Homo sapiens: one gene and its partners. The protein of the gene in region 1 purifies or fractionates together with the protein of each later gene. This does not show direct contact. Each region holds a gene or a part of one and is shown in the gene's direction. Other genes may lie near its edges. The genes, in order: EXOC1, EXOC6B, KXD1 and EXOC7.

The links.
Region 2: the proteins of EXOC1 (region 1) and EXOC6B purify together in Homo sapiens (affinity purification with mass spectrometry; 4 studies listed by BioGRID and IntAct, with this or other methods). This does not show direct contact.
Region 3: the proteins of EXOC1 (region 1) and KXD1 purify together in Homo sapiens (co-immunoprecipitation; 3 studies listed by BioGRID and IntAct, with this or other methods). This does not show direct contact.
Region 4: the proteins of EXOC1 (region 1) and EXOC7 purify together in Homo sapiens (affinity purification with mass spectrometry; 5 studies listed by BioGRID and IntAct, with this or other methods). This does not show direct contact.

Annotation. Positions count from the first base shown.
Region 1 is NC_000004.12:55,856,638-55,863,662, forward strand, and holds part of EXOC1 (exocyst complex component 1), read left to right. Parts: intron 1-1,676; 5' UTR 1,677-1,686; coding exon 1,687-1,810; intron 1,811-3,773; coding exon 3,774-3,904; intron 3,905-7,025.
Region 2 is NC_000002.12:72,494,012-72,501,036, reverse strand, and holds part of EXOC6B (exocyst complex component 6B), read left to right. Parts: intron 1-1,064; coding exon 1,065-1,136; intron 1,137-2,485; coding exon 2,486-2,583; intron 2,584-4,477; coding exon 4,478-4,583; intron 4,584-5,497; coding exon 5,498-5,607; intron 5,608-7,025. UniProt on the Homo sapiens protein: Component of the exocyst complex involved in the docking of exocytic vesicles with fusion sites on the plasma membrane.
Region 3 is NC_000019.10:18,560,856-18,567,880, forward strand, and holds part of KXD1 (kxDL motif-containing protein 1), read left to right. Parts: intron 1-1,180; 5' UTR 1,181-1,201; coding exon 1,202-1,302; intron 1,303-2,910; exon of another isoform or gene 2,911-2,924; intron 2,925-4,013; coding exon 4,014-4,166; intron 4,167-4,278; coding exon of another isoform or gene 4,279-4,339; exon of another isoform or gene 4,340-4,354; intron 4,355-6,276; coding exon 6,277-6,323; intron 6,324-7,025.
Region 4 is NC_000017.11:76,086,772-76,093,796, reverse strand, and holds part of EXOC7 (exocyst complex component 7), read left to right. Parts: intron 1-2,561; coding exon 2,562-2,654; intron 2,655-3,315; coding exon of another isoform or gene 3,316-3,468; intron 3,469-3,625; coding exon of another isoform or gene 3,626-3,753; exon of another isoform or gene 3,754-4,055; coding exon of another isoform or gene 4,056-4,122; intron 4,123-4,476; coding exon 4,477-4,622; intron 4,623-4,873; coding exon 4,874-5,026; intron 5,027-5,234; coding exon 5,235-5,333; intron 5,334-5,674; coding exon 5,675-5,737; intron 5,738-6,076; coding exon 6,077-6,143; intron 6,144-6,904; coding exon of another isoform or gene 6,905-6,943; intron 6,944-7,025. UniProt on the Homo sapiens protein: Component of the exocyst complex involved in the docking of exocytic vesicles with fusion sites on the plasma membrane.

The DNA of each region.
Region 1 (7,025 bases):
GGCAAGCTCACATGTATGAAATACTACACATTTGCATTGAAAAATTGTAATACATATCCACACAAATATGTATATGAAAAATAAAATAGAGATTTAAAATTATTTTAAGTTGATGTTTGAAAAGATGCTGAGTTAGATAAGAAAAAGGAGATAAGTGGAAACCTATTTTTATAACAGTTTTATTGAGATTATGTATCATAAAATTTACCCTTTTCAATTGTATAATTGAGTGATTTTTGGCATATTCACAAGGTTGTATAACCATCATTACTATCTAGTTGAAAGACATTGTCATCACCCCAAAAAAGAAACTCCATACCCATTAACAGTCAATCCTCGTTTCCACCTTCCCTTCCAGCTCCCGAAAACCACTTATATTTCTGTATCTATGGATTTTCCTACTCTGGATATTTCATATAAATGGAATCATACAATACGTGGTCTTTTGTGGCTGACTCCTTTCACTTAGCATAATCTTTTCAAGATTCATCAATATTTTAGCATGTTTCATTACTTCATTTCCTTTTTTTCTTTTTTTTTTTTTTTTTTTTTTTTTTTGGAGACAGAGTCTGGCTCTGTCTCCCAGGCTGTAGTGCAGTGGCGCAGTCTCGGCTCACTGCAAGCTCCGCCTCCCGAGTTCATGCCATTCTCCTGCCTCAGCCTCTCCCAGTAGCTGGGACTACAGGCACCCACCACCATGCCCGGCTAATTTTTTTGTATTTTTAGTAGAGACGGGGTTTCACCGTGGTCTCGATCTCCTGACCTCTTGATCCGCCCGCCTCGGCCTCCCAAAGAGCTGGGATTACAAGCGTGAGCCACCGCCCGTGCCCGGCCCTTTGTTTTTTTTGCAGCCGAATAATAATCCATTGTATGGATATACCACATTTTGCTTATGTATCATTTGATGGACATTTCTGTTATTTCCATTTTTTGGCTATTGCAAATAGTGCTACCATGAACATTCATGTACAAATTTTTGTGTGGACATATGTTTTCAGTTCTCCTGGAGTGGAATTGTTGGATTATAAGGTAGCCCATGTTTCACTTTATGAGGAGTCACCAAGCTGTTTTCCAAAGTGGCTGCACCATTTTACAATCCCACCAGCAATGTATGAGAGTTCTGTTTCCTCTCATCTTCACCAACACTTGTTACACCAACACTTGTTATTTTCTATCGTTTTTATTTTAACCACCCTCATGGGTGTAAAGTGGTTGATACCTCATTGTGGTTTTGATTTGCATTTCCCTAGTGGCCAGTGATGTTAAGCATGTTTTCATATGCTTATTGGCCATTTGTATATCTTTGGAAAAATGTCTGTTCAGGTCTTTTATTCAGTTTTTAATGGGGTTATTTGTCTTCTTATTGTTGTAAGGGTTCTTTATGTAGAAAACTATATTAAAAGTTTGAGCAGTGGGTTGAAGATTTTTTTCTTAAATCTTGTGTGTGTGTGTATACTTGGTGAGCATTTCCAAACATTTTAGAGTTTGATAACACTGGTTCTCTAATTTTATTTCCAAACTTACAGCTTTGTATTTTTGTGATATAGGTGTATTCATATATTAAATCATTTTTCCTAGGCTTGTTAACCAAAAATTATTTTCAAATCATAAATTCAGAAGTATAAGATGGAATGATGTTGAGGGTGAGCTTAATATCTATACTCCACATTTTTCAGCTGAGAAAAGATGACAGCAATCAAGCATGCATTACAAAGAGACATTTTTACACCAAATGATGAACGCCTGCTGAGCATTGTGAATGTCTGCAAAGCAGGAAAAAAGAAAAAGAACTGTTTTTTATGTGCCACAGGTGGGTATTTAGTAAGAAAGAGTACTTGTTTTGTATCCTTTTATTATTTAGAAGATATTTCCTCTTTGTTTTGAATATCCTCATTGTCTCTGTAATTGGAAAAATTGTTGGGTCAACACATTCCTAGTTAACACTTGGCTTTGACAGGCTGTTAATTGTTGTCAATCTGGTGGCAGTGAAATAGTATCTCATTGTGGTTTTAAATTATATTTCCCTATAATGATGAGATTGAGCATCTTCTCATGAATTTCTTAGTCATTTCATTCTGTTGTGTATGAAATTTACCTGTTTAAGCCTTTTACTCATTTTTCTGTTGTGTTGCTTGTCCTTTTACTGATTTGTACAAGTTCTTTCTATAATCTGGTTATCAACCTTTTGTTGGTTGTATGCATCCCAGTTAGTGGCTTGTCTTTTCACTTTTTATGATGCCTGTTAATGAAATTTATAATTTAAACTAAATGAAATTAATTAATCCTTTATGGCTTTCCCTTTTGGTGTCTTAAAAGATCCTTCCCTGTATCTTTTGTGCAGTCATAAAAATATTTTCCTAAATTCAAAAGTTTTATAATTTTGCCTTTTACAGTTTAGTCTTAGTTCACCTGTGTTGACATCTGTCATGGTGTGTGTGAGCATTTCTGGTTGTCATCTTATATGTTATTTTTATTTTGTTTTTGTTCTTTATTCCACCTAAATTTTAGAAACAACTTGTCGAGTTTCAGACTTTGTTGGGATTTTGATTGGAATTGTTTTGAACCTATAGTTCAATTTGGAGAGAACTTGCATTTTTATTGTATTGAATCTTTGTGTCCATGAACATGGTACAGTTCTCTATTTATCTAGGTGTTTTTTAACTTTATAAGTTTCATCATTTTCTCTAAAGGTTTGTCATGTATATTCTTGGATTTACTCCTGAGTATTGGTTTATTCTTAGATTTTATTTGATAGTCGTGAAAGCGCTTATTAACATTAATACATTTTAAAATCATATATTGTTAGAATTCTACAATGAATTGTTGGTGTTTTATATGGATGTCTATCAATCTTGCCAAACTTTCTTATTAATTCTAATTATATGTAGACTTTTTGAAAGTAGTGATATTTTTCTTCCTTCCTTTATAGTTTTTATATCTTTTATTTTTGTTGGTTTAGTTTCCTAGTTAGGACTATCAATACAGTCTCCATCTCAAGGAGAATGACTTCATTTTCAAGCATGGTATTTGGTATAGGGTTTTTATAGCTATACTTTACAGTGTTAAGTAAGTTCCCTTCTATTCCTGGTTTCTTACACTTTTTTAAAAAATCATGAATGGGAGTTGAATTTTATCAACTGCTTTTTCATATCATTGATATCATAAAATTTTCTTCCTTGTTAGTGTAGTATATAATTGTACTTGGTTTTTGAAATGATAAATTGACTTTTTAGAATGACCTCACTCAATCGTAATGTATTTGTATTAGGCCATTCTTGCATTGCTATAAAGAAATTCTTAGGCCAGGAGCAGTGGCTCATGCCTGTAATTCCAGCACTTAGGGAAGCTGAGGTGGGCAGATCGCTGGAGCCCAGGAGTTTAATTAAGACCAGCCTGGGCAACATAGTAAGAACTTTATATATAAATGTATTGTTGCTCTTTGAAATGGTATTTTGCTCTTTCAAGCCTCACAGACTTTACTTATGTCAATCATTCTTTAGATTTTTACCTCATACTTTTCTTTAAAACTGGTCTGAATTTATTATTAATATATCATTCCTTTATTTTTCAAGGAATCTCCTCTGATCTTCTAGTCTGACTTAGATGCTTCTATTAGGATTCTGTGCTTTCCTCGGTCATAGCACTTGTTGCAAAGTATTACACCTCTTTTAGTATCAGCTACTAGGCACCTGAAAGCTATACTTGCAATGAGTGAATGAAGAATGAGTGAAAGGGGTAATATTTCTAATAAAAGTGTGCGTTTTACTCAACAGTGACAACTGAACGCCCTGTGCAGGTTAAGGTGGTCAAAGTCAAGAAATCCGATAAGGGAGATTTCTACAAAAGGCAGATTGCATGGGCCCTTCGAGATCTTGCTGTGGTAGATGCCAAAGATGCTATCAAAGTAGGTTTTTCTCAGTTCTTTGACCTGTGTTCAGAAAGCATCTTTCATTTTATAACATGGTATTACATATTCTAAAATGATCTAAAAACAAATTAATATATATGTTTGTTTTCTTATTTTTTTGCTTTTTTTAAGCTATAATTATGTTTGTGCACAAGCTACATAAACTAGAGAAAAATTACTTTGACTGTATACATTTCTGTGTTTAGATTAAGTATAATTTGTATAAAATCTATACATAGTATGGATTTTAAAGTGGTGTGTCATGAGTTTTTTTTGCTTGTTTGTTTGTTTGTTTAATCAAAATCATATAACCAAAGTGATCCTTCCTTAGTCTTCATGAGTAAACATAGAATCACCAGCTGGGGCAGCCAGACTGGCCTTTTGAGGCCACCATGGCTTTGATGTTTGTGGATCAAAAAAAAAAAAAAAGAAATGATAGTGGGTTACATACCTTATTTTAAGGAATGTAGATAATAAGATCTATGAAGATATAAACTTACACGTTATAGATAAACCACACTCAAACTCCAAGAAAGGTGATTAATGTGATAATCACATTAAAGGACCACCTATGTTCCTGACAGTTCAAAGCTTTCACAGCAATACCCTTTTTTCAAAGCAATCAAGTTGGCCTCCTTTGATTAAATTAGGTGCTTCCTCCCCCTGGCCCTCTCTCACTCTGCCCTTCATCTTTCTCTGCAGCCCTAACACACCTCCATAGCACAAGAGAATACTTTGTACCACAACTACTTGTATGTCGATGGGATGAACATAATAGCAAGGCTTATACTAGTGAAACTACAGGTGCTCTTTGACTCTACAAATCTCATACATTTACTAAAAAGGCACAAAGTAAAAACAACAAAAAACAAAAAAACTGCCTGTGTAAAGCAATCTGTTAAAATAAAATTCTGATTTTACCCTTACTTTGGTACAAACCTCCAAGGATCAAAAATCTGGACAAAATGACAGGTAGTTGAGTTGGGTGCAAAAAAAATGAAGTAAGAACAATTTGAGGAGAGCCCTCTATATCTGTATAATTCAGATTTCTTCCAAATGTAAATCATGCCTTTTCTTTAAGTATTCTAGGCTTACTGGCCCTTTGTTTTATCCCTAAGGAGCACCCAATGCTTAGAAAAATGTGAAATGTAGAAACAGGATTTGACAGAAATTTAGAAAGCTAGAGATTGGAAAGAAAATTATAATGGGATGTTTAAAAATAATTTAGGCCAGGCGTGGTGGCTCACGCCTGTAATCCTAACACTTTGGGAGGCCGAGGCTGGTGGATTGCCTGAGCTCAGGAGTTCAAGACCAGCCTGGGTAACACAGTGAAACCCTGTCTCTACTAAAATACAAAAAATTAGCTGGGCGTGGCGGCACACGCCTGTAGTCCCAGCTTCTTGGGAGGCTGAGGCAAGAGAATTGCTTGAACCTGAGAGGCAGAGGTTGCAGTGAGCCGAGATTGCGCCACTGCACTCCAGCCTGGGCAACAGAGTGAGACTCTGTCTCCACAAAAAAAAACAAAAAAAAACTTCTGTAAGTAATTTTTATTACCATGGGGAGGGATCAAGAGTGGAAACTTTTCTGGTTGTTTTCTGTTAAGACAAAACACTTTAAGGGTTTTTAAAACTGCACCTTTATTAAAAAACATTTTTCCCTTCAGTAGTTTTGCACTTCGTAACCCTGTTGACTTGCATAATTCAGTAACATTGCTGAATGCTTATTTGAATGCATTCTCACAGCTGATGCCTCTTGCAGACTTGCTTAATGGATTTTTTTTTTTTGCATTTTATGTAGGCACCTTGGTGTGTGTATGCTATATATGGATATAAAACATAAAATTTTTATACATAACTTAACATTAGCCATTTAGTATCACACATTGATTTGTGAGTGTTGCCACTGGAGCACTCAGCTTCTTTTATGGTATTATGGGAAATATTCCCAGGGAAGAGATTATTTCCCATCAAGTTTCATATTGGTTGCCAATACTCTTGTTGTGTTTTTTTGTAAGTAATAATGCAATTACCTTTTCATTGTATATGCAGGTTTTAAATTTTTGACGCTTCAATTCTGTTTATTAAGCTATAAATTGAACTAATTAGTAGTTCCATGCTGCTGTAATATGATTGTTGTACCAAAGGTCAAGTCCTGATTCCTGAGATACTCCAGTTCTTCACAGTGAAAGTCTGATATAACTTCCCTTACTTTAATGTATTTACATTTCCCCCAAATAACACTTTAAATGAATCAAATATATTATTATTCTTTTACCCTGTAGAACATTAAGAATATTTGAGCCTATTTTTTAATTCCTTGGATGTGAAGTATACATCCATAAGTTTGTTTGTTTGTTTGTCTGCTTGTTTGTTTTGAGACAGGGTCTCACTCTGTCACCCAGGCTGGAGTGCGGTGGCACAATCTTGGCTCACTGCAGCCTCCACCTTCCGGGCTCAAGCCATCCTCCCACCTTAGCCTCCCGAGTAGCTGGGACTACACGTACATGCCACTACACCCGGCTAATTTTTGTGTTTTTTGTAGAGAAGTGTTTTGCCATGTTGCCCAGGCCAGTCTCAAATTCCTGGGTTCAAGCAATCTACCCACCTCGGCCTCCCAAAGTGCTAGGATTACAGGCGTGAGCTACCAAGCCCAGCCTGTTTTTTTATATAATAGTCAAGTAGTTCTATTCATTCAAGGGAGAAATATTAGCCTGATGTGGATTATTGCTATAATGTGGCTTAAGAGACTTGAAGAAACTATAGTGTAATTCTCTCAGATTGGTTGAGCTTCTTTATCACATGAAAGAACGTTAGGCCAGGAACAGGGCTCATGCCTGTAATTCCAGCACTTTGGGAGGCCGAAGCAGGAGGATCAACTGGATAACATGGGGAGATCTTGTCTCTACAAGAACATTTTAAAAATTAGGCATGCTGGTATGTGTCCGTGTCCCCAGCTACTCAGGAGGCTGAGGTTGGGAGGATTGCCTGAGCCCAGGAGGTGGAGGCTGCAGTGAACCATGATTGCACCACTGCATTGTAGCCTTGGCAACAAAGTGAGACCCTGTCTCAAAAAAATAAAGAACTTTGAGACCTAGCAGCACTTTTAGCTTTCAAGATAT
Region 2 (7,025 bases), on another chromosome or scaffold:
CTACAAGGAAAATAGAAATGAAGTTGAAGATCTTAAAATGGGATAGGAGATGGATATTTGGTATCGATACTAGTTTTAATCTAATGAAAAGGTAATAGCCCTTTTATAAGGAAGCATCAATATGTATAAAACAAAAACTGTTAGTAATATGAAGAGAAACGGACAAGCTGCATAATTGTGGGAGAATTCAAAACACCTCTTTCAGGACTTGAGAGACCAATGAGAGAGCAAGTAACAAAAATTATAATTAAAGAATTTGAATCTCAAAATCAATGAATTTTTACAATAATGACATACACATCTTTGTATCCTGCCCACAGAAATTATTTTCCATGTCAGTTAACTTTTCTGATTTGTTGATATGAGGTTATACATGGACATTATTTGTAATTTTTATTTTCCTCTGTACTTATTTTCTCTTTTGTATTTCTCATGTTTTTTATTTTCTCTTTATTGTTTAATCAATTTTGTCTAAGATTTGTTTATTTAATTGATTTTATTTTTAACTTGGTCTTTGGTTTATTTAATCAAATCTTCCATATCTTTTTTAATTTCATTAGGTTCTGTTTTTAATTTAATTAATTTTATTCTCTCATTTACTTATGGTTCATTGGCTTTCCCCCATAGTTTCATCAGTTCAGTGCTTAGTTTGTTTATTTTCAATCTTTTGTGTTTTGTGATGTTTACATAAAGAAATACAAATTTATTTTGAAAATGGTTTTAGCCACATACCATAGTTTTTGATATGAAGTATTTTATAGTTGTTCATTTTTAAAAGTGTCAATTTTGTTTTCTTCTTTAACCAAAGAGTTATTTAGAAGTGCATTTTTAAATTCCCAAGTGTTAAAAATATAGATCATGGTTATTGAACTTGCTGTACTCAGCTGTTCCCTGGCTGAACCTGGTGTTACCTTGTACCAGGGAAGTGTTGAATTATTTCTAGGGAAAGAATTTACCAGGTAAAGAATTTGCCAGATAAAGCGCTAAACAATTAAATAAATAAAAATTTAATTGCATTTTTACTAATAACATGTTTTTCCTCCTTTGTCTTTTATTTACTTTAGTCTTACTGTTCTGATCCAAACCTTGTGTTAGATTTGAAGAACCTCATTGTGCTTTTTGCTGACACACTTCAGGTATGTGATTTCTGTTTACATATGCTCATCTAGATTGGTATTATAATCAGCTCTAAACCTTTTTCTTGACTGGGTCTGGTGGCTTTTGCCTGTAATCATAGTTCTTTGGAAGCCTGAGGTAGGAGAATTGCTTGAGTCCAAGAGTCCAAGACTAGCCTCAGAAATATAGTGAGACTCCATCTATACAAAAAATAAAAACATAAAAAATCACCAGTAGCAGTACCACATTCCTGTAGTCCCAGGCACTCTGGGGGCAGAGGTGAGAGGATTGCCTGAACATAGGAGTCCAAGCCTGTGGCAAGCTATGATCTCGCCACTGCACTCCTGCATGGGTGATAGAGACCCATCTCAAAAAAAAAAAAAAAAATCTGACTGGGTGCAGTACCTCACGCCTGTTATTTCAGCACTTTGGGAGGCTGAGGCAGGCGGATCACTTGAGGTCAGGAGTTTGAGACCAGCCTGGCCAACATGGTGAAACCCTGTCTTTAGTAAAAATGCAAAAATTAGCCGGATGTGGTGGTAAGTGCCTGTAATCCCAGCTACTTGGGAGGCTGAGGCAGGAGAATTTCTTGAACCTGGGAGGTGGAGGTTGCAGTGAGCTGAGATAGTGCCATTGCCCTCCAGCCTGGGCGACAGGGTGAAACTCTGTCTTAAAAAAAAAAAAAAAAAATCTACATAAGCTTGGATAAGTTACCTGTTAGTTTTAAGTTGGGTTTATTATTTTCCTAGGAACTAGGTCTTTTTATCTCTTTTATAGCATTTCCTGAACTTTACCCTGAGCCATTATGTTTTCATATGTAGTTTCCACCTCCTTTTTTTCTCTCACATCAAATCAATTAATTGAACTACTGACTACATTAGTTTTTCAAAATGTTCTTAATTCATATATGGCAGCTGAGTTAGTTTGCAGTTTCTTTAACTACCATCTTGAATAATGGTGGTTGATTTGAACCACATATTATATCTAATAGAATAGCATTAGAAGTGGATGAGATTCGAAGCATTTTTACTTTCTCTCCCTTCTGTGAACGCTTACTATAGGTAGTAGGACTTATAGGAAGGGATGTAGGGAGGACTTATCCCATAGTATACCCTTTATATATAGATTTTAATTTTCATCTTTTTCTCACTGGCTTAAACATTTTGCTAGGTATTATTTAATTTTTGAGAGATAAATGCTAGATATTAGGTGTGAATGAAAGATTCTACTAAATGGTTTTATTTAATTTGCTGTTCAAAGAATGTAATGTTTTTCAGTATCTTATCCCTCTCATTTTGCCAAAAAAAAAAAAAACCGAAAAAAAAACTCCTTCCTTAGACACTGAAGTGATTTTCTTATTTTGTTTCAGGTGTATGGTTTCCCTGTAAATCAGCTTTTTGACATGCTGTTAGAAATCAGAGACCAATATAGTGAAACTCTGCTAAAGAAGTGGGCAGGTATTTTCAGGTGAGAAATTATCTATAGTCATATGTGTGTGTGTTCATGTACATTAGTGTACACACATGTATTTATGCGCAAAGGTTTTCAGATGTTATAGGCAACAAGTATATGTTACTTATATTTTGTAGCTACTCTAGGTTATGATCCAGAATTCAAATAAACTGTTAGAACGTCCAAAATTAAGTTCCCAAGATATCCAGTCTCAGTGTATTAGTGTCTACTGTAGTGGGAAGTCCCCAAACCCTATTTTGCCTTTTTGTTTCCTTCGATAAATATCAGATTCCTTGGTTCATGTCATTCAGATCATCTTGGTGTCATCTTATTCTGTTATTTGGTTTTCATTTTGAGGTTCATGCCTAGTCTACAACTCAATTATAGTGAGTAACATTTGAGCACTTAGGAATAATTTAGGCTTTCGGAAAATCTGTTTGGATGACTCACTCATGTTGTTCCTCATCATCTTCCCTCTCCACACACAGCAAAGGGGCATATTACAGCCCAGTGTTTGAAGCCTGTTATTTAAGTAGTTATTGCAACATGCATACAATAATAAGAAAGTTATTCTGTCACATCTATCACTCACAGATGTCTTCTCGAACTGTGCTCTTGGCACATAATCCAGGTCAACTCATTTGACTTTCTTCTCTTTTTATACCTTTACTCCTTTACTTTAAGTGATTATGCTGCCTATTGCAAGACCCCTTTCCCTGATCAGTTTGTCCTCTTTTCAAACTCTTATAGCTTCAAGATCTTACATTAGTCCTTTACTCTTACTCTTCTCGTTTATGAACATATCTCTGATCATCACTTAGTCCAATTTATCTGTATATTAATATAAATATTTATATTTCTAAAACCTAGATTTAGCTAATGGTATAATTGTATTTAAGGGAGTCTTATCTCTATAGGATATTTGAAAATTAATAACATGATATATCCATAGTCTTAGATGCTCTGATCTGACGCCTTCAGTGAGTCTTCTGTTTTGATTTTGGTAGTATGTTCCCTACTATTAGAGAATGCCCAGTTTATTTAAGGAGAGAGAACCTATCGATTTAAAAAAAGTCATCCTTGATATAGAGCAGTAGGTAAAGTAAATGAAAATAGTTTGAATTTATTATTGAAGTTACTCTGTTTGCCAATTTTGAAAGTTAGAATAGAACATGATTTTAAAAACCTTATCAATGGGCCAGGTGCAGTGGGTCATGCCTGTAATCCCAGCACTTTGGGAGCCAAGGTAGGAAGATCCCTTGAGGGCAGGAGTTTGAGACAATCCTGGACAACATAGCAAGATTATATCTCTACAAAAAAATTAAAAATTAGCCCGATGTGGTGGTGAACAACTGTAGTTTCAGCTACTTGGGAGGCTGTGGCGGGAGGATTGCTTGAGCCCCAGAGTTTGAGGTTACAGTGAGCTACGATCATGCCACTGCAATCCAGCCTGGGTGACAGAGCGAGACCCTGTCTCTAATAATAATAATAATAATAATAATAATAATAATAATAATAATGTACATTTATATATCATATTAAACCAAACAGAAAATATCTTTGCCTTTTCTAGAGCACACATTCTTTTGTTGTTTACTTCTCACTTACATTGAAATGTTCTGTCCTATTTGTAAATCTCAGTTCCTAAGAGATATGTTTATAATTGTGGTCCATTTGTTTCAGAGGATAGTTTTCTTTTTGTCTTCTTTAAATCCAAAACCAAATAGCTATATTGTGGAAGGAATATAATAGGGACTGGGAAATGTTCATTTTGGGTTGTGGCATATATATTAAGATTGGAGTTCATCAGAAAAATATTTGTGATTAACCCACCTTCCCTCTGTTCCCCTCCCCTACCCCCCCACTTTGTCTATCCTTCCCTTCCCTTTGTCTATCCTTCCATTTATAGAAACATACTTGATTCTGACAACTACAGTCCTATACCAGTAACAAGTGAAGAGATGTACAAAAAGGTGGTAGGACAATTCCCATTTCAAGATATAGAACTGGAAAAGGTAAGGAATACTTTAAAATAAATTTCTCTGGTTGTTTTGGCATCCTCTTAAAAGCTTTCATTGGATCAGTTTGATTGAAAGCATTACCTTTAACTCAATGGGTTAGAACTCTAAAACAATTTCAAAGGATTCTTTTTTCTTTTTCTTTTTTTCACTTTAATCACCTTTCTGACGATGAAGGATTCTTTTTGGGGAAGACCAGAATTTCCTGATTTGGGAATCAGCAGATGGCTTTGGATCCTATTACCTCTGAAGTGTTTGGAGGATTGCTGCGGATGTTCTAATTCAGTTTACACTTTGAAATACTTGTTTTTATTAAAATTTAAAGACATTTTTTCCCCACAACATAAAATTTACACTTTGTGGTGTACAATTCTGCTGATTTTGACAATGTATTGAGTTATGTATCCATTACCACAATGTTGATACCAAATAGCTCTATTATAAAAAAAAAATTATTTAATGATGCCCCTTTGTAATACCCCTCCCTTAACCCAGCCCCAGGACAGCAGAAACCTGGGCTCTGTGCATCTACTTTTGCCTTTTTCAGAATGCCATATAAATGGAATTGTGTAGTATATAACTTCTTGAGACTTACTTCTTTGATATAACATAATGCTTTTGAGATTCGTCCAAATTGTTGCATGTATCATTGTTCATTCATTTTTATTGCTGAGTATGTAACACAATTTGTTTATCTCTTTCCATGATGAAGGACATTTGAATTATTGTTTTATTTAAATTTATGTCTTTTTAATATCAGAAAACTTTGGGAGATATTTTCTTATATTTGAGTTTGTTAAGGAGACAATTCACAATGTGAAAGAATGTTCTTTTTGCAACCTAAATAATTTATAAATATCTTCAATCTTCGTTGGTTTGTGACTTGATTTCATTACTTCTTGCATTTACAGCAACCATTTCCAAAAAAGTTTCCTTTCTCTGAATTTGTGCCAAAAGTTTACAACCAAATTAAAGAATTTATCTACGCTTGTCTGAAGTTTTCAGAAGATCTTCATCTAAGGTATAATACAAAATAGTAGAAATGTAACCAATGCTAAGATTGTGACTCCATGTATTTACATATTCTGAAAAACTTTTGATAGTCCCGTCAGCCCTGATTTTGGAAATCTTAATAATTAGCTTTTCACTGCATGGCACTGCTGTATTTCTATAGTCACGATGAAAGAGAAGATTGGTAACTTTTGCATAATTTTGAAAATTTATATTATCTATCTTATTCTTTATAGATTTGCATTTCAACACTTATTAATGACAGTTTACTAGAAAATGGTAGGCTGGATGCAGTGGCTCATTTTTGTAATCCTAGCACTTTGGGAGGCTGAGGCAGGAGGATCGCTTGAATCCAGGAGTTCAAGACCAGCCTGGGCCACATAGTGGGACCCCCATCTCTATAGAAAAAAAAATAGACAAAAAATACTGATTTTGACATTCTACTTAATGAAATGTTAAGGCCAAAAGGGGAGTATCAGATAAAATCCTTTGGAAACACTATTGCTCTACTTGTATATGTATATTTTCTATACGTGCTAGAGTGTAGGCTCCTTTGTTTCTTTATTCATGTATTGGTTTATTCACCGTAGATTTTGGCTAATGTATTATTTGTCAGATGCTGCTTGGTATAGAAATAATTAAGTTGCTGAAAATGTGGTCCCTGTCTTCAAGGAGTACCTAGTCTAATTAAGAAGCTGAACAATTAATAAGTGCTGGAGCAACATACAAGCCAAGCCAAACACAAATGAGGATGTTTGTGTTCCATCCTTTTGTAGGGTGGAAACATTTTATCTTTGTTCAACACAATATCCCCTGTACCCAGCTCGGAAAATTTTTTTTAATGAGTGTATGTATGAAATGAATGGAAAGCATGGTATGCCAGGCTACTCTGAAAATAAACATAGTTGGGGAATAGTTTGAGTCACTTCTTTGTTAACTATTCTTACTAAGAAAATAAATGAAACATGGGGTTTGTACAATTAATTTGTCATTTTCTCTGAAAATGAAATTGTTTTCATAGAAATGTTCTCTTGAAAATAGATTGTCTTTTGAAGTTACAAACCAAAACTTTTTTACCCTGGGTTTCCATCCCCCACCTGCCTGGCCTCCACTTCATTAATATAAGTGACCTTATATCAGATAATTGTCTGTAGGGTATGTTAGGTATATTATTGTAGATAAATCATTACAAGTTGATTGCAAAATTACTTTTTCTATCTTCTTTTGGAAGAAAGGTAATATGGTAAAGGAATAATATTAGTAATGGGATAATGTCAGATGCCTTTTTCTTGCCTGAATATGTGAAGTTTTTGCCTGAAAACTTCCTTTGATACTTTTCACATTTAATATTTAAATAAAATATTTAACTTGGGGATTTTAGAAAAAGCTAGATGCCTTTTACTCTTCATTTGGCATTTATCTTATATC
Region 3 (7,025 bases), on another chromosome or scaffold:
ACCACCATGCCTGGCTAATTTTTGTATTTTTAGTAGAGATGGGGTTTCACTATGTTGGCCAGGCTGGTCTCGAACTCCTGACCTCGTGATCCACCTGCCTCGCCCTCCCAGAGTGCTAGGATTACAGGCGTGAGCCACAGCACCTGGCCACCTCTGCTCTTTTGGAGCTGACGTTGTGGCGGTGACAGGCAAACGGGTTAGCTGATAACTAGGATAATTTCATGAAGAGGTGAACCAGTGAAGCAGTTAAATCAAGGTAAAGGGTGGCTGGGCGCAGTGGCTCAGGCCTGTAATCCTAGCACTTTGGGAGGCCAAGGCAAAAGGGTCGTGTCAGCCTAGGAATTTAAGAGCAGCCTAGGCAACATAGCGAGACCCTGTCTCTTAACAAACAAACAAACAAAAACAAGGTAAAGTAGCCTGGGCGCGGTGGCTCATGCCTGTAATCCCAGCACTTTGGGAGGCTGAGGCGAGTGGATCACCTGAGGTCAGTAGTTCGAGACCAGCCTGGCCAAAATGGTGAAACCCCGTCTCTACTAAAAAATACAAAAATTAGCCAGGCGTGGTGGCGGGCACCTGTAATCCCAGCTACTTGGGAGGGTGAGGCAGGAGAATCGCTTGAACCTGGGAGGCGGAGGTTGCGCTAAGCCAAGATCGCGCCATTGCACTCCAGCCTGGGTGACAGGAGTGAAACTCTGTATCAAAAAGAAATAAAAAAACGAGGTCAAGTAGTAAGAGAAGCGGTAAGAGTGACGGGAACAGGAGTCATTGACCTCTTGGGAGAGGAGACATTGGAGGTGGTGATGATTTGCTGAAGCAGCCACACACGTTCAGCTTGTGAGGACAGCAGTTGTTAGGCAGGGGATGAGGGAGGAAGCTGGCAGATCTGTGCAGGTGAGAGGTACCTGTGGCCTTGGGCTCATGGAAGTGGGAGGTGATGGGATTCTAATGTGCTTGGGTACAGTTTACAAATACAACCTCTCTTAGTTTGCCCAATACCTCCAAATTCCTGGGGTGGCACACCTGAGGTTCAGGTGGCATGACTGAGCCACAGTCACACATCCCCACTGTAGGATACCACCACGGTTGGGTTAGGTTCCAGCACATGGCGGTCCCGGCCTGGCCTCTTGGTCCCACCTCACCTGGTGACTAGTGCAGACCACTCTGTTCTTGCCTGTTTCAGGCAGCGGAGGAGGAGAAAGAGATGGACCTCCCGGACTCGGCCTCGAGGGTCTTCTGCGGCCGCATCCTGAGCATGGTGAACACAGATGATGTCAACGCCATCATCCTGGCCCAGAAGAACATGTGAGTGGCGGCTGGGGGACCTGAGCGTGGGAAGGAATCCACAGGCTGGCCAACATTCTTGTCTTGCCCGCCCCTACCCGGGGCCCACACTGGTGATAAAATGAAGGAAATGAGCAAATCTGTCGCTGGCTCCAAAGTAAATTCCTTCCCGGCCTGGAGGCGAGGCCTTGGCACAGGAAGCAGGGCTTTGGGGAGATTTTGCAGCTGCGGATGGCTTGGCGGGGGCCGCAGGGGCTCCTGTCCCGAGACCTGGGGTGGGAGAGTTGAAGGACCAGAGGGGGCCACATGCAGGTTTTTTTGTTTATTTGTTTCTTGTTTTTGAGACAGAGTTTTGCTCTTGTTGCCCAGGCTAGAGTGCAATGGTGTGACCTTGCCTCACTGCAACCTCCGCCTCCCGAGTTCAAGCGATTTCTCCTGCCTCAGCCCTCTGAGTAGCTGGGATTACAAGCATGTGCCACCATGCCCAGCTAATTTTTGTATTTTTAGTAGAGACGGGCTTTCATCATGTTGGTCAGGCTGGTCTCGAACTCCTGACCTCAAGTGATCCACCCGCCTCGGCCTCCCGAAGTCCTGGGATTATAGGCCTGAGCCACTGTGCCTGGCCTTTATGCAGGTTTTATGCTGGTGCGCCTACTTCCTGGTGAAGGACTAGTCTCCCAGAGCCCAGGCTGTGTCTGCACAGTGCCCAGGGTCTCTTGGAGCGGACATAAAGGCCTCTTGTCCTCACTGGGGTTTGGTGCTGTGGCTGCTGAAACCTTGCCCTAATTCAGGCCTGCCCTGTGGGGAAGAAAGGCTAATACCAAGCTTGTCCAACCCTCGGCCTGTCCAACCCTTTGAATGTGGGCCAACACAAATTCGTAAACTTTCTTAAAACATTACGAGATTTTTTTTGTGATTTTTTTCTTTTTCTTTCTTAACTCATCAGCTGTCGTTAGTGTTAGTGTATTTTATGTGTGGCCCAAGACAATTCTTCTTCCAATGTGGCCCAGGGAAATGAAAAGACTGGACACCACTGGGCTAATACAGTCTTGGAGTGGAAGCACAGCCTCCCGCAGCTTTGTTTTTGTGTCTCTGAGCCAGAGGCTCTTCTCAGCTGTCACGACACAGTACAGACCTGATTTCCTTACCTTTTCTCCCAGACCCAGAGCAGCTCCGAGTCTCAATAGTACCTGTCTCTCTCCTGTGTCTTTTTTTTTTTTTTTTTTGGGAGACAGAGTCTCACTCTGTCGCCCAGGCTGGAATGCAATAGCATAATTGCTGCTCACTACATCCTCTGCCTCCTGGGTCAAGTGATTCTCCTGCTTCAGCCTCCTGAGTCGCTGGGATTATAGGCATGCACCACCATGCCTGGCTGATTTTTTTTTTGTGACGGAGTCTCGCTCTCTCGCCAGGCTGGAGCACAGTGGCGCAATCTCAGCTCACTGCAACCTCTGCCTGCTGGGTTCAAGCGATTCTACTGCCTCAGCCTTCCAAGTAGCTGGGACTACAGGTGTGCGCCACCACGGCCAGCTAATTTTTGTATTTTTAGTAGAGACGGGGTTTCACCACGTTGACCAGAATGGTCTCAATCTCTTGACTTCGTGATCCGCCCGCCTCAGCCTCCCAAAGTGCTGGGATTACAGGTGTGAGCCACCGTGCCCGGCCCTGATTTTTTTATTTTTAGAAGAGATGTGGTTTCACCATGTTGGCCAGACCTCAAGTGATCCACCCTGCCTCAACCTCCTAAAGTGCTGGTCTCCTTTTTTTTGAGACATAGTTTCGCACTGTCACCCAGGCTGGAGTGCAGTGGCGCAATCTCAGGTCACTGCTATGTCCGCCTCCCGGGTTCAAATGATTCTCCTGCCTCAGCCTCCCGAGTAGCTGGGATTACAGGCGCCCGCCACCATGCCCAGCCAATTTTTGTATTTTTGGTAGAGACGCGGTTTTCCCATGTTGGCAAGGCTGGTCTCGAACTCCTGACCTCATGATCTGCCTGCCTTGACCTCCCAAAGCGCTGGAATTGCAGGCATGAGCCCCCATGCCCGGCTGGTCTCCTGTTTTTTTAGGTCAGATTCAGACCTGGCTCTGGGAAACTTCTAGACTGAGGGGAGACAAAGCCAGACACAGACCCTCCTGGCCCTATGGTGTCAGGGCTGGGCCAGAGGAACAACCTGGGGCTAGTGGAATTAAAAGAGTCTGATTGGGCCAGGCACGATGGCTCACTCCTGTAATCCCAGCACTTTGGGAGGCCGAGGTGGGTGGATCACGAGGTCAGGAGATCGAGACCATCCTGGCTAACCTGGTGAAACCTCGTCTCTACTAAAAATACAAAAAATTAGCCAGGCATGGTGGCGGACGCCTGTAGTCCCAGCTATACTCGGGAGGCTGAGGCAGGAGAATGGTATGAACCTGGGAGACGGAGCTTGCAGTGAGCCGAGATCGCGCCACTGCACTCCAGCCTGGGTGACGAAGCAAGACTCTGTCTCAAAAAAAGTCTGACTGAATAGAGGTAGACAAGGCTACATGAGAAGGACACACTTGAGTAGGGTTTTGAAGGTTGAATAGGAGTTTGCTAGGTGGCTCAAAGAGTAGGTAGAACTCTGCAGGACAAGGGAACAGCCCATGCAAAGGTTGTGAAGCAGGCAAGGGCTTGGCATGAACAGTCTTCTGGGCCAGGTTGGGCAGGGCCCTGAAGCTGGGCAGTGAAGCTCATGCCCTCTCTCCACCATCAGGCTGGACCGCTTTGAGAAGACCAATGAGATGCTGCTCAACTTCAACAACCTGTCCAGTGCCCGCCTGCAGCAGATGAGCGAACGCTTCCTGCACCACACGAGGACCCTAGTAGAGATGAAACGGGACCTGGACAGCATCTTCCGCCGTATCAGGTGGGTGCTCAGTGCCACCCCAGCCCAGCTGACCTCTGCCTCCACCTCCCCATCTGAGCCTCAGTTTCCTTCACATACCAGGGTAAAGGGAGATTTCTGTTTGTTTTACAAGGCTTCACTGCGCACTTAAGTGTCTGGGACAATTCCAACCCTGGGATAAAATCTTGACGTAAGTTTATTTACTGATTGATTAATTGATCGAGACAGAGTTTTTTTTTTTTTTTTGGAGACGGAGTCTCGCTCTGTTGCCCAGGCTGGAGTGCAGTGGCGCGACCTCAGCTCACTGCAAGCTCCGCTTCCCGGGCTCACGCCATTCTCCTGCCTCAGTCTCCGGAGTAGCTGGGATTACAGGTGCCTACCACCACGCCTGGAGAATTTTTTGTATTTTTAGTGGAGATGGGGTTTCACCGTGTTAGTAGTCAGGATGGTCTCGATCTCCTGACCTCGTGATCCAGCCGCCTTGGCCTCCCAAAGTGCTGGGATTACAGGCGTGAGCCACTGCGCCCGGCCGAGACAGAGTCTTGATCTGTGGCCCTGGCTGGAGTGCAGTGGCGTGATCTTGGCTCACTGCAACCTCTGCCTCCTGGATTCAAGCGATTCTTGTGCTTCAGCCTTCTGAGTAGCTGGGTCTACAGACATACTGTACCACACCCAGCTAATTTTTGTTGTTGTTGTTTTATTTTTGAGGTGGAGTCTTGCTCTGTCGCCCAGGCTGGAGTGCAGTGGTGCAATGTCAGCTCACTGCAACCTCCGCCTCCCAGGTTCAAGCGATTCTCCTGCTTCAGCCTCCTGAGTAGCTGGGACTACAGGCGCATGCTGCCACGCCCAGCTGATTTTTTGTATTTTAGTAGAGACGAGATTTCACCGTGTTGCCCAGGCTAGTCTCAAACTCCTGAGCTCCAGCACTCTGCCTGCCTCGGCCTCCTAAAGTGTTGGGATTACAGGTGTGAGCCTAATTTTTGTATTTTGTGTAATTTTTGTATTTTTTTAGTAGAGACAGGGTTTCCCCATGTTGGCCAGGCTCATCTCGAAGTCCTGGCCTCAGATGATCCATCCACCTCGACCTCCCAAAGTGCTGGGATTATAGGCATGAGCCATCATGCCCAGCCTTGCAGTTTATTTATTCTTAAAAAATGTAACACAGTGCGGCTGGGCGAGGTGGCCCATGCCTGTAATCCCAGCACTTTGGGAGGCCGAGGCAGGCGGATCACGAGGTCAGGAGATCAAGACCATCCCGGCTAACATGGTGAAACCCCGTCTCTACTAAAAATACAAAAAATACTAAAAATACAAAAAATTAGCTGGGCGTGGTGGTGGGCGTCTGTATTGCCAGCTACTCGGGAGGCTGAGGCAGGAGAATGGCATGAACCCAGGAGGTGAGCCGAGATCGCGCCACTGCACTCAAGCCTGGGCGACAGAGCGAGACTCCGTCTCAAAAAAAAAAAAAAAGTAACATAGTGCTAGACACATAATGAAAAGGCAGGAATGGCTGGGCACAGTGGCTCATGCCTGTAATCCCAGCAGTTAGGGAGGCTGACGCAGGCAGATCACCTGAGGTCAGAAGTTTGAGACCAGCCTGGCCAACATGATGAAATCCCGTCTCTACTAAAAATACAAAAAAATCAGCTGAGCATGGTGGCACGTGCCTGTAATCCCAGCTACTTGGGAGGCTGAGGGAGGACAATCATGTGAATCCGGAAGGTGGAGGTTGCAGTGAGCCAGGATGGCACCACTGCACTCCACCCTGGGCGACAGAGTGAGATTCTGTCTCAAAAAAAAAAAAAAAATTTATCAGAGAAGAGGCCACATGTAAGAAGCAGCCTCGCAGGGGGAGCCCCCAGCCAGTGCCTAGGCTCAGAGCACCCAGAGTCTAACTAGTTGGGGGTTGGTGCCTACCTTGGGGCTGGAGGCCGGCTGGTGGGCGACTGTCAGGGCCGTGGCTGCTGGGCCGAGCACCTAGAGAGAGTGAAGATGTGAGGTGATGAACAGTGTGGGGGTTCTCACTCCCGTCTCCCCTTGCCCTCAGCTGGCAGCAGGGGCTTGTGGCCAGCACCAGGCCCAGCCTACCTGCTCAGCAGGTTAAGCCCTGTGTGCCTTCTCTCCCCTGCAGGACGCTGAAAGGGAAACTGGCCAGGCAGCACCCAGAGGCCTTCAGCCGTAAGTGTCACGCAGGGTTCCTGCTCCCGAGCACGTCAGCACTCTCCACCCAGGGCAGGCTTCTGGAAGGCCACCTTGGGGCCTGATACTGAGACCAGGCTGTAATGGGCAGTGGGTCTGGGGAAACCTGGGGTGGGGGCAGGGTCAGGGTGCTGGCCTGGTCCTGTCAGCAGCTGGCAGAGTGGGCACTAGGACGGGAGTCCGTGCCCCGTGGGGAGGCCGCACAGGAGAATGTGGATAAGCAGCATGACAATCCTTATCCCTGTGTGCATTATGAGCCATCTCAGAACAGAGCACGGGCTCATGTGACACCAGCCCCGACATCGTCTCGCCTTCCCTGAGCCCCAGCTTCGAGGATCTGTCCCATGTCCAGCTGTTACCCACAGTCACCCATGGGGTGGGGACTGTGAGTATCACCGTTTCATGGAGAGGGAAACAGAGGCCCAGAGGGGCAGGACTTGAGTTCGCATCTGTCTGGCTAGAGAGCTCGCGTGTTCTCTGGGGTACCATTCCATGTTGCCACCACCTTAAAGGGCTCTGCAGGCTGAGCCTGGGTTCACACCATCTGTTGAAAAGGCCGACAGCTCTCCATCCCAGGGCCTCCAACAGCAGTTTACAGAGCAGGGAGCTGGGCTGAGGGGAGGTCATATACCTAGCCCAGGTAGTGCAGTGAGCCAGGTTCGCCCTCAGGGCTCCTGTAGG
Region 4 (7,025 bases), on another chromosome or scaffold:
GTCTGTTCTTTCTCCCCGGCATCATATCCCTTATAGTCTGTGCTCCAGGTAAACAGTGTCTCTGCCAGCCACAGCTTGGCAAGCCCGGCTATGTCTGGCCACTGAGAGATGCTGCCCGCAGCTCGATGATGTGCTGGGATGTTCTGGGGTGGGGCTGCTGAGATTGCACTGAAAAAGAAAGCTGGAGAAGCCGGGGCTGCTCCCACCCAGGCTGGCCCCCTGTCCAGCTGCTGCTGTGGGCACATGCCCTAGTTGTGGCCTGTGGCACCTGCTTATGACAACAAGCTTTGGGTAGAGCTTACTTACACCCTTGGTTTCTCCAGTCCCTGCCTGCTCATGCCCCTCAGAGAGTGAGGTGTCTGTTCCACAAGAGCACCCGCTCCCCTGCAGGCCTTTGTTTAGGGTTTGGAGAAACAGGCAGAGCAGGGGCTGCCCTCAGGGAGTAGAGCATTAGGGAGCTGGTGCCTGGGGCCTTCTCCCTCCAGTGTGGAAATCCTGCCCACCAGCCAAAACCTGCTGCAAATGGGGACTGCCAGCCCAGCCTGTGGGCGCAGCTGCCTGCACAGTGGATGGAGCAGCTCTGTGCCTTCTGTGTGGTGGGGAGTGGCTGTCTCTATGAGGCTGCTAGGATGCTTGGGCCCCAGCCAGTCTGTGCTTGCTTCCTCTTCTGCCTGGCTCCCTGACAGGTCCCCCAGAAGCCCCAGAGCCCTATTTGCACTGCCTTAAGAGTGCCCGCTGGCCATGCAGCTACCTGGCCTTTCAGGCAGGAGGGATCTGATCTCAGGTGGCTCACAGTGGACCACATCCATCCTTGGGCCAGAGACACTAGAGGAAAACTCCAGCTGTGGGGTTTCAGAGTTGTCAGGAACTGGTGGGCTCAGGACCGATGTCAGGCTCTAGGGAGTCAGGCTCTGGGGATGTCGGTTCCCACTTCTGAGGAGAGGGACAGGGAGGCCTCCCAGGTGGTGAAGCACCGACCTCAGCATCCCTGGAGGCAATTGGGAGCCTGACGGGTTTGGCGGCTGCTAGATCCACATCGGCGACCCACATCCTGCCGGCGTGCACCTGCGTCTGTGTCTGCTCCTGGTGGGTTGTGGGGCAGGAATCAGATTCACTCATTAGTAAGCCGCACTCGCTGAAGGGGAGAGCATGAGCAAGGGAGACGTGAGCCAGGCCTTGGTTATTAGGAGCTAATTATGGGCCAAGTATGGTGGCTCACGCCTGTAATCCTAGCACTTCGGGAGGCCGAGGCGGGCGGATCACCTGAGGTCAGGAGTTCGAGACCAGCCTGGCCAACATGGTGAAACCCTGTCTCTACTAAAAATAGAAAAAAAATTAGTTGGGTGTGGTGACGCACGCCTATAATCCCAGCTACCTGGGAGGCTGAGGCAGGAGAATCACTTGAACCCAGGAGGCAGAGGTTGCAGTGAGCCGAGGTCGTGCCACCGTACTCCAGCCTGGGCGACAGAGTGAGACTGTCTCAAAAAAAAAAAAAAAAAAAAAAACAAGCTAATTGTGGTGTTGTGCGGTGCGGTGCGGTGCAGGTGTAAGCAGTGAGCCTCCAGACACTGCCCCTTTCTCCCTCAGCTTTCTGGGGAGCTGCCAGGACACAGCAGCCTCACTGTGCTCAGATAGACTGTGGGGGTGGGAGGCATCCCGGGTGCCTTTCTGCCCCTATACATTTTGTTAACAAGGCAGCTGCACTTGTCTGCTTGAGATGCGAGTTGATTTCCCGACGTCTTCTGGCCCGAGATGTCTCATTCCCACAAAGGAGGCTGACCCAGGCGGCTGTGGGTGCTGCCATTTTGTTCTCATTGTTTTCACTTGTGATACTAACTATTGTTTTTCTCCCCCATGCCAAGAGCATGTGCCCTCTCCTTCCGTGCACACCCTCCAGGCGCTCTGTGTGGTGGCTTCTGTTAACCCCTTCTTGACTTTTGGATTTTTTCTTGTCGCTTTGGTGGTTTGGGGAACTCTGGTGTGGGGCTAGGCTGCCTCTGGGTCTCTGAGCCGTCCGCCTTGGGCACAGCGCTCCCCCGGAAGTTCAGTCAGGGTGGCTTCCTGCTGGCTGCTGTTTGGCGTACGTCCCAACACTGAGCATGCTCGGAGAACTCTGCCTGGAGTTTGGGGCTGGGCTGGGGGCCTGCTGGCTTCAGGGTGCCCCCCAGGCTCTCCCACCCTGGTTGTGCCCTCTGGGTATGCGAGCTTTGTCACGGGCTCCTCCGACCTGAGCCCTCGCCTGTTCTGATTATGATGCCACTCCATATTTTTGACTTCTCCTGGTGGATCTTGGTCCATCTTCATTACCCTCTGTCCTTTCAGAAATGAGCTGAAATCCAGAACAAGGAGGGTCGGTAGTAGAATCAAGGCTCCATTTGGAGAAGGAAATGACTCCTTTCCTTCATCCTTGTCCCCAGCGTCTCTGGTGGTCTCAGGGAAAGGCCTGCTCACTGTTGGGGAGCTGGGTGCGGGGCCTGGGGGGCAGGTGGAGGGCCGCTGCTGTTTTCTCTCACTCATTTCCTAGGTCTTCTTATCTCCTCTCTGTGTGGCTCTGGTGACAGGGACGATCCGTAAGGCTCAGAACCTTCTGAAACAGTATTCCCAGCATGGTCTAGATGGGAAAAAGGGGGGCTCTAACCTCATTCCTCTGGAAGGTAATCACCCTGTGTTCCCCTCCTGTCCCTTCCTCCTCCACTGTGTGTCCACGCACTTGGCAGGGCAGAGCCTCCCCCAGGAGGGCCTCGGGAGAAACCCTGAGGGGAGCAGGGTGGGAACGGCAGGTCCCCGATGCCACTCGGGCTTCAGCGGGCACAGGGACAGTTTCGCAGCCCTCGGCCTGGTCCTCTCTGGCTGATGGCAGCTCTGCCCTCCCTGAGGCTTCCCTCCTCCCTTCCCTGTCTCTGTCCTTGTCTCCTGTGTGAACTCAGAAAAAGTTATTTGTCTTGGGGCAGCCCTTTCACGCTCAGACCAGCAGTGGCAGGCCCCAGCTGGCCGAGGCCTCCCGGCCTTCCCATCTTTAGAAAGGGGAGTGTGTGCAGCAGAGGACAGGCAAACTGGGGCTTTCCCCAAATACAGCGAGGTGGGGAACCCCCCTGGGGCCAAGCATCAGCTCTTCAGCCCCTCCTTGGTCCTTCTCCGCTTTCCCTGGGCCTCCAGGCTCGGGGAAATGAGCAGCTAAGGACGGTCCTGGGTGCTCACTGAAGTCAGGCTTGAAACGGCTGTTCCCAAGGTGGCTTGAGGTAGAGGAGGGGCTCAGGGCCCTCTCCGATGCCCCCTTCCCCATCCCCATCTGACGTCCCCCTCCTGGAGATGAAGGGCTTCTTCCCTGTACCCCAAGGGGCGGCCTGCCTGGCCCCTGGATAAACGCTGCTTGTGTTTGTGCGGCCGACATCTCGCCAGGTCACGAGCATGATTTCCGAGTTAAGCACCTGTCCGAGGCCTTGAACGACAAGCACGGGCCGCTGGCCGGTGAGTACCGCAGCCCAGCCCGAGGGCAGCCGCTGACACTGCCTTCGCAGCGGTCCCCGGATGGCCTGCTCCTGCCTGGCCCAGCTGGGCCCACTCTGCTCTGAGGATGGGCCAGGCCTATGCGCCTCTCTCTCCACTCTCTCTCTTTTGGGCCTAGGTCTCCTTGCCTCTCTCCAGATGGGAGTGCGTGCCTGTCTGTCAGGCCTGGGCCAAGGGGAGAAGCCGCTGCTCCTCGGAAAGCAGGCAGAGAGGGAAGGTGGCTCCCTTGAGGGCAGGGAGCCCTGACGTCCGCCTCCTGCAACAATTCAGAGCTCTGATCCCCTCGGAGCCCATCCCTTGGCACATAGGACCAGGCAGTTCTGCCGCCGGTTTTGCCTGCAGGCGCCCCCGCCGTGGCCTCCAGTAATAGGGTCTGGCCTCCTCCTGGGGCAGCTGGCAACCCCTCCTCTCTGGGACTTACCAGCCTCTTAGATTTTGACCCCATGCCAGCCAGCCTCAGAAGCTGCAGCCAACCACCCTCTTAGATGTTCCAGAAGCCCTGACTGGGCTGGTCACTTCCTTCACAGGCCCCGCATTTGCCCACATGGATGACCCCAGTGCCAGCCTCCTTGAGGTGGCACAGCCACCTGCCCACCCTGGGCTGCCCTCTTTCAGGTACAACTCAGAATGCTCAGTCCTGGGGTCAAACCACCTTATCCAGGACGCTGATTCAGGAATCTTCCCTCCTTATCTTTCCATCCGTCACTCTCCTGCCTCTGGTGTCTGATCCCACTGTCTGCGCAGAGCCGAGAATGAAGCCAGAACAAAGGCTGGGCTCAGCTCCTTTTATTCCCCTCGAACCTGGCGGGGCCTGCTGGCTCCCTTGCAGCTTTCTGCCAGAACAGTCAGCCTCTTCCCCATCCTCTGCCAGTGTGGGGTACAGGCCAGGAGCTGGGGGACCCACGCCGCCCCCAGCCAGGAGTGTGGCTGGCCCCAGACCAGCAGCTCAAGAGTTGTGCCATCCCCCAGGGAGAGATGACATGCTGGACGTGGAGACCGATGCCTACATCCACTGCGTCAGTGCCTTCGTCAAGCTGGCGCAGAGCGAGTACCAGCTGCTGGCCGACATCATCCCCGAGCACCACCAGAAGAAGACCTTCGACTCCCTGATACAGGTCCCGCCCCGCCCCGGGGGCTCTGCAGCCAGCCCCAGCAAGAGCTGTCACAACAGACTCTTGCAGCCCTCAACTCCACCCACCACCACCACCTCGTGCCCTGGGGACCGGTCCTGGGTGGACGCTCACCACCTCCCCGTCACCCCTCTTCCTGCACACTGGCCCCCCTACATACTGCAAGGATCCCCCACTAGCCCAGAACTAGCTCCCACCGCCCCACCCTTCCCTGAACTGTCTCCCTGCCCCCTCAGGATGCCCTGGATGGGCTGATGCTTGAAGGGGAGAACATCGTGTCTGCTGCCCGGAAGGCCATTGTGCGACACGACTTCTCCACGGTGCTCACCGTCTTCCCCATCCTGCGACACCTCAAGCAGACCAAGCCTGAGTTTGACCAGGTGCTCCAGGTATGTGGGCGAGGGGCCCTCAAAAACACAGCCAGGAGGCATCGTGCTGCCGGGTGTGGCCGCCCCATCCCTCCCTGGGAGAACCCCATTCTCTGTCCCACACTTCTGCTCTGAAGGTGCATGGAAGCAGCTTAGGAAGGGCCCTGGGTGAGTGAGATGCTCACAGAGCGACTGGAGGTGAGCTGGGGGCTCCCCTGTGCTTCCTCAGGGCACGGCTGCCAGCACAAAGAACAAGCTGCCTGGCCTCATCACATCCATGGAGACCATCGGTGCCAAAGCGCTGGAGGACTTCGCAGACAACATCAAGGTCCCTGCTGTCCTCCCCTTTCTCCCTCCCTCCCGGCCCAGCACCACAGTGACCTGGCCCTGGGGGACTCTCAGAGCAGGCCTCCAAGAGGGTGCGTTGTCCCGGGGCAGCCAGCTGCGCCACTGGCCTGTCAGCACCCATGTGCCTTCCTTTCCTTCCTGGGGCCTCCAAGCCCTCTGAAGTGGGAAGGGCCTCTCCCCCTTGGTCCAGCCTGGCTCAGCCTTTGTGCCTGAGAGGTGTCCTAGCACCCGTCTGCCAGGAGGCGGCACCATGAGCAGGTGCACTGGGGCATGGGGTGGGCTGGGGGCTGCTTCAGGGAACCAGAGGCTGTTTTTCCACAGAATGACCCGGACAAGGAGTACAACATGCCGAAGGACGGCACCGTACACGAGCTCACCAGCAATGTGGGTGCTGCCTGAGGACACCAGGGAGAGGGGAGGAAGGAGGGCCCAGGCCCAGGCCCAGGGCCAGGCAGAGTACTGGTGGAAGGGACTCAGCCTGGCCCAGAGCCGCTCGCACCTTTGTGAGCAGTCCTGGGTGGCAGGATGGACAGTGACATGTTTAGTGTCTCTAGCAGACAGGGCCTTTCCTGGCAGGCTAGAGTGAAAATGAAGTTTCCAGCCGCGCTCTTCACTGGGCGGATCCCAGCCCTGGGCTGGCCCTGGGCACTCAGAGGGGTCGCTGTGGGAGGCCGTCGGCCGGGCCTGCCACTTGCCCTTCTGCACCGTTTTCTTCCCACCCAGGCCATCCTCTTCCTGCAGCAGCTTTTGGACTTCCAGGAGACGGCAGGCGCCATGCTGGCCTCCCAAGGTACTGGTACCTCCCAGTTGGGCCCCCTGCCCCACTCGCCTCCTTGCCTGGAGACATGGGGTTAGAGGGCAGGTAGCAGTGAGGAGGTATCTCCAGTCTGTGGAGGGGTTGAGGTGTGCTCAGCAGAGGGTCCCTGGGGCTGAGCATCAGGAGAGCAAGGTTTGCCTGCACCTTTCAAGACCAGACACTGGACCTCTGGCCCCTCCCTCAGCCCCTTTGACCGTCCTCGCCCTGGAAGCAGTGTCCTCACTCTGGGAGCGGTGCTGGTTGGTTGGAAGGTGTCCTTTCTGCCCCTGCCCCCCTCCCAAATCCTTCTCTCGTGTCTGCCTGCTCTCCTAATCAGGCTCGCTCAGCTGGCCTTCAGAGGGTAGCAAGTGTCTCAGGGCCCGCTGGGCGTCTTCCTGCTGGCCCTGCCCTGGGACTGGAGCTCAGGGGGTTGGCCTGTAAGCAAGAGCACCTTTCTGGGTCATTCCAAGCACTGAGGTCCCTGGGCCCTCTCCTCCCGTCCCATTTTGGGGGCAAGGAGCCTGTGGGCAGCCTCCAGCCTGCAGTTCTCAGCTCTCTACTTTCCAGGGTGTTCCCTGGTCCTCAGAGGGTCCCGCCTGCTGTGTCTTGCTATCTGTGTTTTGGCTGTCGTGGGGAGAGGTCTGCTTAATTCGGGTTGACATGCCGTTTCTAACCTGTTTTTTGCACTTTGCATCTTTCTCCCTCCTTTGTCTCTCCCTCTGTCCCCTCTGTGTGCACTGCCTTTCACTCCGTAGTTCTTGGGGACACATACAATATTCCTTTAGACCCCCGAGGTAAGCAGTGCGGTTCTGCAGCCCCCTCCTGTCCCTCTGAAGCTTGGTGGGTGAGGTTCCCTGGGGACTGACTCTCAGTACC